2 separate regions of the Homo sapiens genome follow, and region 2 is linked to region 1. The links come from fine-mapping of genetic effects on gene expression. A gene starts in region 1. The other region holds a variant in brackets. All regions are shown on one strand. Distances are between the middles of the regions.

Region 1 (5,377 bases):
GGGTACTTCTCCTGCAAGCAAGTTCTGCCTGCTCCCCACCAGTGCAGTGCCACGGGACCCCTAGAAGGAGGTCTCACCCTGGCTCCTGGCTCCTTCAGGGCGCGCTGCAATGCAGCTTCTGCAGACTGGGGCTCACCCCCCGCCTTGCTTTCTAAAGTGTAATGTTATGATTTCTGCCATAAGGGGCGCATCCATACAGCCAGGATTCCCTTGGGATGGGGGTCCTGATCTTTGCTCCAGCACAGTGAGAGGAGGGGAAGCGGGTATGAGGAGGCCCCCCGGAGCTGCCATCCAGCTGGGGACTTGCCTACGCAGGAAAGTTTGTCTTCTCCTGCCACGGACCCAGTGCACCCACCTAGCTCCCTCTACCAGGCTCAGGCAGGTACTGAGTGTTCCGTTGGCTCTGCCTTCCCTGCTGAGCACAGCCCCCAGGCTGGACCCCCTAGGATGCTGCTGGAATCTGGAATAACAACAACAGCAACCCCCACTCTGAACTTCTTGGTCAGCCTAAAACAAACAGCTGGGAACATGGTTATGCAGAGCCCATCCCTGCTTTAAAAAGTGCCATCTTCACAAGGTGTTACAAAACATTACAGGCTGGATTACTTGTTTTAGTTGATCCTCTCTTCTTTCTCCCCAGTAAACTTCCATTTTTCTGATTTCACTTTGGCATCTTAGGACTACTCAGGGAATTATATTATTAAAAACAACACTGAAAATATTCCCACAAAACCCTACCAAGTAATACTGAATATAGAAACATAAAACTGTATGTTTTACCTATAAAAAGGCAGGTAAGGTTTTAAAATCTTAGCATTCCTGTCTGTGTATATATGTATGAAAATTTAGGTTTAAGCTAATGTTTAACACAATGCATTTATCTCAATTTGGGGGAAAAAAAGAGATCCTGACTGTGCGACGGTTTGGTATGAAAACCGACACTTTTGCTGCTGCCTAAAACCTTGGCAAGCATAACCTAGCCCCTTCGGCATTGTTTGAAAGATGCCTGCAGGCATTCAGTTGTCTGCTTGCAAAGGACTCCTGTGCAATTATCAAATCTATTAAGATGCCTTCAATTTTGCAACGCTTCTGCTAAGCTCATTTTGGTAGGATTGCAGCATCTTACCTGTGTCACTGCAGATTTGTTTTCCCCAAACAAATAACTGCTGTGAGAGGTGGGATCACATTTAAATCATTAGACAAGGTGGGGAAGGGGCTGGGGAGAATCAGGCAAATCCAAATTTCCAACCTTCCCTCAGCAGGGACATCCCAAATTCTGCCAAGGGAAATTCATATTCCTGACGTAAGGAACAGGAAGGAGATACTGAGAGGATTCCGAATTTCAAGGGCATAATCTGCCCATTTGGTGGAAGGATAAAGAAAGGACGGCAGGCAGTAGAGGGCCTGTGTTACAACAAGAAATGCAGGAGCAGATGAGTGAGCTGAGAAGGAGGGATGGGGCAGGGAAGGAGCTCCAGGGGGAGAGGGTAGGGGAGAGCAGTTCCGAAGGAAGGGAGGGAGGAGGAGAGTGGGGAGAGGTGGAGAGGGAGAGAGAGAGAGAGAGAGAGAGAGAGAAAAGAAACAGAGAGAGAGACAGGGAGGCGCAGAGATCTGGACTGATTCAGAAACAGAGAGAGACCACCACGACTGAGAGAGATAAGAGGGTGCCCCTTCCACCCTGCAGGTCCCAACATAGGCAGCAAGAAGGATTTATGGCTGGGAGTTCAAACCCCTCTTCTCCTACCCCCAGGACCACAGCTGGTTAATGCCAGTTGGTGACTTTCACTGAAACAGCAGTGCCTCACAGCATGGTGCAGATCTCGAACCCAGCTCACTGGATCCCCCGGAACAGAGAGCAAATCCCGTGCTGAAAGCATCTGCGCGCGTGTGAGCGAGTGAGTGTGTGTGTGCGTGCACACAGCAAGCCTACCTCTTTCACTCACATGCATCTCACACTCCCTGTCCTCACCCCTTCCTCCTTGCCTCTCCATCTCCCCACTGCCTCTCCTGCTCTCACGTCGTACAATCACCCCAGGGAGAGAAAACACCCTTCCCCTGTACGGTACCTGGGATGAAGAGCAGGGCAGTTGTCGCCGAGAAGACGACCCAGTAGGCAGGATGGTACATCTCGACGCTGCGGTGCTCTCAGCTGCCGGGCTTGCTACTGCTTCTGCTGCTGCTACCGCTGCTGCCTTCCTCTGTGCTGAATTCTGAGCAGGTTTAAATCCAATGTTTGCAAAGGGAGGGAGAGAGCAGAAGAGAGAGAGAGCGCGCGAGAGATGGGAGCAGGCAGGCAGCGTCTCTGATTTCTTTTCTTGCACACAACTGGTAAGAATCATCAGCACCAATCTGCACAGGGCTCAGAGCAGTCCTCCAAGGCACGCATTGGCTCCACTCTCCTGAGCGACGGAAGGAGACTTTCCTGCTTGGAAGGCTTGACTCCAAGGGGAGTCGAAGCCGGCCCCTCACTCACCCCCTCACCGGAGCACAGCCCTGCGTGTTGCTATCTGTGTGAGTATGTTGATGTGGGGCTCACGTGGACACGTGAACACACACGAGCTCCTTGGTGGGCAGTGGAGAGGGCCTGGCACTGCCAGCAGGGCTCAGGGCACACCAAGAAAGAAAGGTTGCTTGGCAGAAATGTGACTAATGCCCATGCCAGTTCCTTATCATTCTTCCTTCTTCCTAGTCTCCAGGCAGGGATGGAGCAGGAACTGCTACCCACGGGGAGAGCTCAGACATTTAAATCTGCACCCTACCCCTCCATTCGGCCATTAACAGCATTTGGAAGCAGTTGGTTTTCCCAGTAAGGAGATGGGCATGTTACGGTTTTAAACCAATGATGCAGGGAGAATTGGCCAGTTCCCCACAATCAGAGCATTCTGAAACTCTACCAAGGCAAGATGCTATAGAAGCTCAAACAATTGCTATGATTACAGCATAGGCAGGGACAGATTCAGATTAGATCTCAAGGAGGCGGAAACTTGCTGAAGTCATCGGAAATCTTCACAAGGAGAAGGCCACAGAAGGATACCTGTGGCTTCCTTCTGTTTTTTTTTTTTCTGCTTCTCCTTTTCAGGGTCCAGTCTGTCCCTTCCTCTGGAATGGCAGTTTACACCGGCAGTTTACACAGGATGGCAGTATCTCTGGGTGTAAGAAACCTCAGAACTTTCCCCTGCTCTAAAACGGCCTGCTTGCCCTCCCTAACACGTGCTTGTAAGCAGCACACCTTGCTGGCTGAGTGGTGCTGCCACTGAACTATACCCTGAACTTGGAGGGTCTGTGATCAAAATAGCACCAAGTATTAGAGAAGGGACTCAGCAGACGATTTCTGTCCCAGGTGCTCTCCGAAGACCTCAAGTGGCTTGGATTCCTTCCCAGCTCCACGTGTCCACACCTTGAGGTCTGTGAGGGACACTCCACAGGAGGTCTTTCTCCCTTCCTCCTTTGCTGCAATTCCCAAAGTTTTCCCAAGTGACCTACTATGGGCAGGTATTCACCTCTATCACTTTAGTTAATCCTCACCAGCGTCCTTCCTTGTAGGCATTATGACCCCTGAATTTTCAACTGAGGTTGACAGCGATTCAGTGACTTGCCACACAGCTAATGAGTTAAGATAAAAACCCAGGTCTGTCCTGCAAAATCCACACAGTTTTTATAAAGCAGCCAATTGCCAACAAGTTCTTTGGGCCTGACTGAGCGCCTCTCTTTCTATAAAATAAATCATGTTTACTTTTAAAGAAGTAAAACAATTGATTACTCCCCTCCTTATGAACAAGTCAGAAAACTTCAGCAGTAAAAGAGAAAACAGATGATGATTGTATCATCCGCTGACACTTATGAAGTACCTACTTAACATAGTCATTTTTTCAGGGATGAGAATATGAAGAATATGATTTGTTCTCGTCTATAAAGGGCATACAATATAAGTCAGGAGATCAGCCAAAAGTTAGCATTGTGACTTTGCGAATGTACATAAAAATAATAGGACACGTACACACTGTTAGAGTCAAATTTTGTAGACCTCATCACTGCAAACATGTCGTTCACAAGCAAATTGATATGTGAATCCTTCAGGCAATGCTGGAATCCTGCAGAAATCCAGAATTATTACCAGTGGCTGAATACGCTGGAGAATACAACTGGCTTGAAATTGTGGGAGAGACCAGATAGGCCACAGAAATGAGATAGACATCTCATGGAGGGGAAGAGAGCAGACACAGGTAGAAACCCTGCAGGGGGGAGTTAGGGGAGGAGATGGGAGACCAAGAGAGAAAGACCTTGAGTCCTAGACCAGTGATTTAGAAATTTCCCCCTGCTGGGAAAAACAGTTAATTTCTTTTTGAGCAGGGGAGCGCTGTGAATGAGAGGGAGTTAATTTATGGAAATTAATCTGGGTGAAGTGTACAGGAGGGATTGTGGCAAGCACACTTGTTAGTAGGCATGGCCCAAGTTTGATAGATCCTGGAACTGGTGGTAGCAGTAGAAGAGGAAAAGAAGGGGGTTGTATGTGGAACGCAGAAGAGTTAGGAGGACGTAGTGACTGATGGCATTCTACGGATAATAGACATCATGTATTCACCCTCTGCAGGCTAGATTTTTTTTAAAAATATTATCACATTCAATTCCTAGCCGTTACTCTATGAAGGTGTAATTATGCCTTTTTGAGAGATGAAGAAACCGAGACTTAGAAAGGTTAGGTAATTTATCCGAGGTCACACAGCTAGTTAGTGACAGCCAAAATTTAATCCTGGGTTTTTCTGTTTCCAAATAAGCGACTCCCTAGAAGAAATTATCATATTGGGCACCATCATTTTATTGAATATTCACATGCCAATCACTCAGGTATTGCCCTTATAAATCCCTATTTATTTATCACCCACACAGACTAGAGGGAGAGACTGGAGCTCAAAGAGCTTTAATAACATCCCCAACATTGCAGAGCTGCCCGGGTGTGGAGCCCCGGTTCAAGGCCTGCCTTCACCACTGGTGCTCTTAACCACCAGGAGGAGAGAGAAGGAGCAGCACTGGCAGCCTAGGAGGGGACCGAGTCCCAGCGCTGCCTGTGCAGTAGCACCTGAGGACATGGAAGTGCATTCCATGCAGCCCCAACCCCACTCCAGGAAAGAGGGGCACACACTACTAGTCGGTAGCTAGTGGCCAGACAGGAGCAAACTTTCATTAAACTGTCTTGGGCCAATCACAATCCTAGGAACTTCATAAATTTTCTCTGTATTGCTAGCCCATTTCAAAGATAAATAAATAGAACAAGTTACAGAGAGTCTCGAGTCCCTCCTCTAAGACTAATAAGTGGCAAGGAAATTGAGGTCTTTCTTACTCCAGAGTTTACATTCTTTCACCTTTCCCTGTCAACTAT
Region 2 (5,377 bases), 630 kb before region 1:
TATACAAGCAGAAGTCTGGGGAATGCTTGTGGGAATGCATACTGAGAGTGTGGGAATATGGTGGAAGAAATATAAAGTTGGATCAGGCCAAATTTACTTATATGGACCCTCAGAGCCGAGGTCCTCAATTTAACTTTGCAGCTCAGGGAGTGAGTTTGTTTGATTGAGTGGTAAAACATGGATCAAAAAACATGAGCCACTGTGAGTGAGCTGGAGATGCCTGATCTCCCTTGGGCTAACACAGAGGAAGGGATTCAAAGGCTTAGGGAGATTGGAAAGCTACAGTGGATTTGTCACTTAAACCCTACTCGGACACACCAGGAGGGTCCAGAAGACAGACTTTTCATCAATACTTTGAACAATGGATTTGTGAGGGGAGCCCCAGCACCCCTGAAGAGCTCTGTGATTGCTCTTCTCTGTAGACCAGACCTTACAATGGGAGCTGCTGTTATTCAGTTGGAAAACTTAAATGCAATGGGAGTAATTGGATCCCAAGGTGATAGGGACCAAGTGACGGCACTCAACCGTCAAAGACAAGTTGAATGCAGTTTTCAAAATGGTACCTGGTATGCACCTACTAAACTGGCAAATACCTTTTTCTCCATTTGTGTTCATAAGGCCCACCTGAGGCACTCTGCCTTCAGCTGGCAAGGCCAGCAATACACCCTCACTGTCTTACATCAGAGATATATCAACTCGCCAGCTTTATGTCACAATCCAGTTTGCGGGAATCTTCACTGCCTTTCCCTTCCATAAGATTTCATACTGTTCTATTGATAACCTTATGCTGATCAGACCTCATGACCAAGAAGTAGAAACTACTGTGGACTTATGGGTAAGGCGTTTGCATATCAGAGCACGGGAGATAATCCAATTAAAATTCAAGTGCCTTTTACCTTGGTGAAATTTCTAAGAGTCCAATGGTGTGGGGCATGTCAAGATATTCCTTCTAAGATGAAGGATATGTTGTGTATCTGGCTCGTCCTACAACCAAGAAAGAGATACCATGCCTAGTGGGCCTATTTGAATTTTGCAGGCAACACATTCCTCACTTGGGTGTCTTACTCTGGCCCATTTGTTGAGGGTCCCAAAAGATTGCTAGTTTTGAGTGGAGTCCAGAACAGAAGGCTCTACAGCAAGTCCCAGCTGCCATGCAAGCTGCTCTTCCTCTTGGGCCATATGACCCAGCAGATCCAATGATATCCAAGATGTCAGTGGCAGATAGCGATGCTGTTTGGAGCTTTTGGCAGGGTGCTGTAGAAGAATCACAGCAGAAGTTCTTAGGATTTTGGAGCAAGGCTCTGCCATCATCTGTAGATAACTACTCTTTTGAGAGAGCTCTTGGCCAGCTACTGGGCCTTAATAGAAACTGAACGCTTGACCATGGGCCACCAATTACCAGGTGACCGGAGCTGCCCATCATGAACTGGGTGTCATCTGACCTACCAAGCCAGGAAGGGCATGCACAGCAGCAGTCCCTCATCAAATAATGGACCAGCACAGGCCCTGGAGGTACAAAGAAGTTACATGAAGAAATGCCCCAAATGTCCTTGGTGTCTACTCCTATCACACTGCCTTCTCTCCCACCACCTGCACCTATGGCCTTATGGGGAGTCCTCATGATCAGCCGACAGAGGAAGAGAAAAATCGGGCTTTGTGGACAAATGGTTCTGTATGATACAGAGGCACCAGCTAAAAGTGGACAGCTGCAGCACCTCAGCCCCTTTCTGGAAGATCCTTTAATGACAGTGGTAAAGGAAAATCTCAAGCGGCAGAATTTGGGGCAGTGCACCTGGTTGTGCACTTTGCTTAGAGGAAAAATGGCCAGATGTGTGATTAGGTACTGATTCACAGGCTGGATGGTCAGGGACTTGAAAGGAACATGATTAGAAAATTGGTGGCAAAAACATTGAGAGAATAGATATGTGGATAGATCTCTCTGAGTCGGCAAAGGATGTGAAGTTATTTGTTTCTCATGTAAATGCTCACCCAAAGATGAGCTCCACAGAGGAGTATGTTAATATTCAGGAGGGTAGGATGACCCATTCTGTGAATACCAGTCAATCTCTTTTCCCAGTCATCCCTGTCATTGCCCAGTGGGCTCAGGAACAAAGTGGCTATGGTGGTAGGGATGGAGGTTGTGCACGGGTTCAGCAGCATGGCTTCTACTCACCAAGGCTAAGCTAGCTACAACCACCACTGAGTGCTCAGTTGGCCTGTTGCAGAGACCAACGCTGAAACCCTGACATGACATCATTCCCCAGGGCAATCAGCCAGCTACGTGGTGGCAAGTTGATTACATTGGATGGCTTCCATCATGGAAGAGGCAGCATTTTGTCCTTTCTGGAA[T/C]AGACATTTCCTCTGGACATGGGTTTGCCTTCCCTCCATGCAATGCTTCTGCCAATACTACCATCTGTGGACTCACAAAATGCCTTATCCACGCTCATGGTATTTCACACAGTGTATCTACTAAGGAACTCACCTGACAGCCAAAGAAGTACAGCACTGGGCCCAAGTTCATGGGATCCACTAATCTTACCATGCGTCCCACCATTCTGAAGCAACAAGCTTGACAGAACAATAAAATGGCCTTTTGAAGTTGCAGTTACAGCACCAGCTAACGTTGCAGGACTGGGGCAAGGTTTTCCAGAAGGCTGTATGTGCTCTGAATCAGCATCCAATATATGATCCTGTTTTTCCCATAGTCAGGATACATGGAGTCAGGAATCACAGAGTGGGAGTGTCACCACTCACCAATACCCCTAGTGACCCACTAGCAAAGGTTTTGCTTCCTTTTCCCATGATTTTATGCTCTGCTGACCTAGAGGTCTTAGTTCCAGAGAGAGTAATGTTTCCATCAGGAGACACAACAATGATTCCATTGAACTGGAAGTTTAGACTGCCCCCCCCACCCCCGCAGCCACTTTGGAGGCCTCATGCTTCTGAGTCAACTGGCTATGTTATGGTGCTGACTGGGTGACTGATCCGGATCAGGAAGGGGAAACTGGATTACTACTCCACTGGATGTAAGGAAGACTATGCCTGGAATACAGGAGATCCCTTAGGGTGTCTCTTAGTATTACCATGCCCCATGATCAAGGTCAATGGGAAACTACCACAACCCAATCCAGGGAGGACTACTAATGACCCAGATTCCTCAGGAATAAAGGTTCAGGTCACCCCACCAGGTAATGAACCATGACCAGCTGAGGTGCTTGCTGCAGGTAAAATAATACAGAATGGGTAGTGGAAGGCAGTTATAAATACCAGCTGTGGCCATGTGACTAGTTACAGAAACAAGGACAGTAATTGTCATGAGTATTTTCTTCCTATCTTGTTAAGGATATGTTTTGGTGTACATATTATATACATGTTATAAATATGTTAAGCAAATATCTTTGGTTTTGCTCATCTCTTATCCCTTTATTATGTATAATAAGATTTTTTGACTTTATATCAGTATATATGTGTTGTTAATTTTACATCATAGTGTTTCAGTTATCATCCAAACACTTTACCTTCTCTTCTAGGGAAGAGATTAGTGCATTTTCAGTTGTATGCAGATAGTTTCACCACGTTAGGTGGAACTATTTCCTTGTTACTGTCTTCATTTGGAGGTTAAGTATGGTTTAATGGGATGCAAACAGGTGCCAAGTTGACAAAGGTGGACCTGTGATGATTAACTTTAGGTGTCAATTTGACTGGATTAAGGAATACCTAGAGAATTGATAAAGCATTATTTTGGGGTGTGTCTGTAGGGGATTTCCAGAGGAGACTGGCATGTGAGTCTAAGTGGACTCGGTGGGGAAGATCTGCCCTCACTGTATGTGGGCACCATCCCATAGGCTGGGACCTAGACAGAACAAAAAAGAGGCAAGGCAAATAGGTTTCTTTCCTGGAGCTCGGATACACTCTTCTCCTGCCCTTGGTCAGCAGAACTCCAGGCTCTCTCGCCTGTGGATTCTAGGACTTAGCCCAGCAACCCCCACTCCCACCCCAGGATCTCAGGCCCTGGAACTTGGACTGAGCAACACTACTGGCATTCCAGGGTCCCCCATATGTAGACGGCTGTCACGGGACTTCTCAGATTCCATAATCAGGTGAGCCAATTCCCTTAATAAATCTCCTCCCATTGATTTTTATGTCTCTAGAGAACCCTGAGTAATACAGACCTGTACAACTTGCATTCTTTTTATCAGCTCTTAACTGCAAAGCAATTCCAAGTAGCCATGCCCACAGCAAGTTCATAATGGACTTATTATAGGCTCATAATGGGGTCTTATTTCTGTACTTTCTATTTCGATGAATGTTCCACCAGCCATTCAATTAGGCCAGTCAAAAAATGGGGTGTCATCCTTGATATCACTCTTTTCTTCCTCTGATATGCAGTCTATCACCAAGTCTCAATGATTAAGGGTCTTTCAAATCTGTGTGTGTTTCTCCATTTCCACCCATCACTGTAGCCTAAACCACCATCATCTCTCATCTCAACTCTCGCCTTGCATCCCAAAGGGTCTCCAGGTGCACTCAGGCCCACTGATACGCATTTCTTCCCATTGCAGCCAAAATTATCTTTAAACAAACAAACAAAACATTTTTCATGTCATCATTCTCCCCTCAGCCCAGCCTCACTCATATCTTCTATTGTTTTAATAGAAATGAAGCTCCTAAATGTGCCTTACAGACTTGGCACTGTCTCCGCACGCTGTGACCTCCAGCTCCATTGGCTTGCTTTTCTCCTTCCTGCCCTATGGGCTCTGCACATTCTGTTCCTTCTCTATGAAACCCTCCCTAGCCAAACTAACTCCAGCTCCTTCATGTCTACAGTCAGAGAAGCCTGCTCTGGCATTTTTAACTAGTCCAAATCTTCCTCTCAAATTGGCAACAGGCAGTTCTAGGTGGCTCTCCATTCAATCCACTAGCGCCCTTGCCATCTCACTTCAGTTTGTGTTATTATTTAAAGTCTATCTCCGGGGCCGGGTGCAGTGACTCATGCCTGTAATCTCAGCACTTTGGGATGCCAAGGCAGGCAGGAGTTCGAGACCAGCCTGGCCAACATATAGTGAAACCCCATCTCTACTAAAAATACAAAAATTAGCTGGGCAAGGTGGTGCACACCTGTAGCCCCAGCTACTTGGGAAGCTGAGGCAGGAGAATCACTTGAACCCGGGAGGCGGAGGTTACAGGGAGCCACCATCATGCCACTGCACTCCAGCCTGGGTGACACAGCAAGACTCTGTCTCTCAAAAAATAAATAAATAAATAATAAATAATAAATAAATAAAGTCTATCTCCAGTGTTTGCTCCTTATCATAGGCTCAGTGTGCAGTATAGTGCCTCACATCCAGGACAAGCTAAATAAACACCAGCTAAATAA

Direction of the effects. Positions count from the first base shown, and alleles are read on the strand shown. Sizes are in standard deviations (SD) of each study's normalised expression.
In carriers of allele T in region 2, the expression in cerebellum of the gene that starts at base 2,304 in region 1 tends to be lower than with C alone (small effect, 0.29 SD a copy in GTEx).

The links. PIP is the estimated chance that this variant, and not a neighbour inherited with it, causes the effect.
Region 2: its variant is fine-mapped to the expression of OPCML in cerebellum (GTEx, PIP above 0.99). The same link has a PIP of 0.9 or more in cerebellar hemisphere.

What each region holds. Positions count from the first base shown.
Region 1 is chr11:133,530,198-133,535,574 of GRCh38, forward strand. OPCML (opioid binding protein/cell adhesion molecule like) reads right to left here and starts at 2,304. Exons shown (of 8, transcript NM_001012393.5): 1 at 2,067-2,304. The coding sequence starts at 2,127.
Region 2 is chr11:132,895,937-132,901,313 of GRCh38, forward strand. All of the region lies in intron 2 of OPCML (opioid binding protein/cell adhesion molecule like), which reads right to left. Among named protein-coding and RNA genes, the nearest start is that of OPCML-IT1, 470 kb to the right of the region's middle. The variant T/C (reference allele first, on the strand shown) is at 2,350.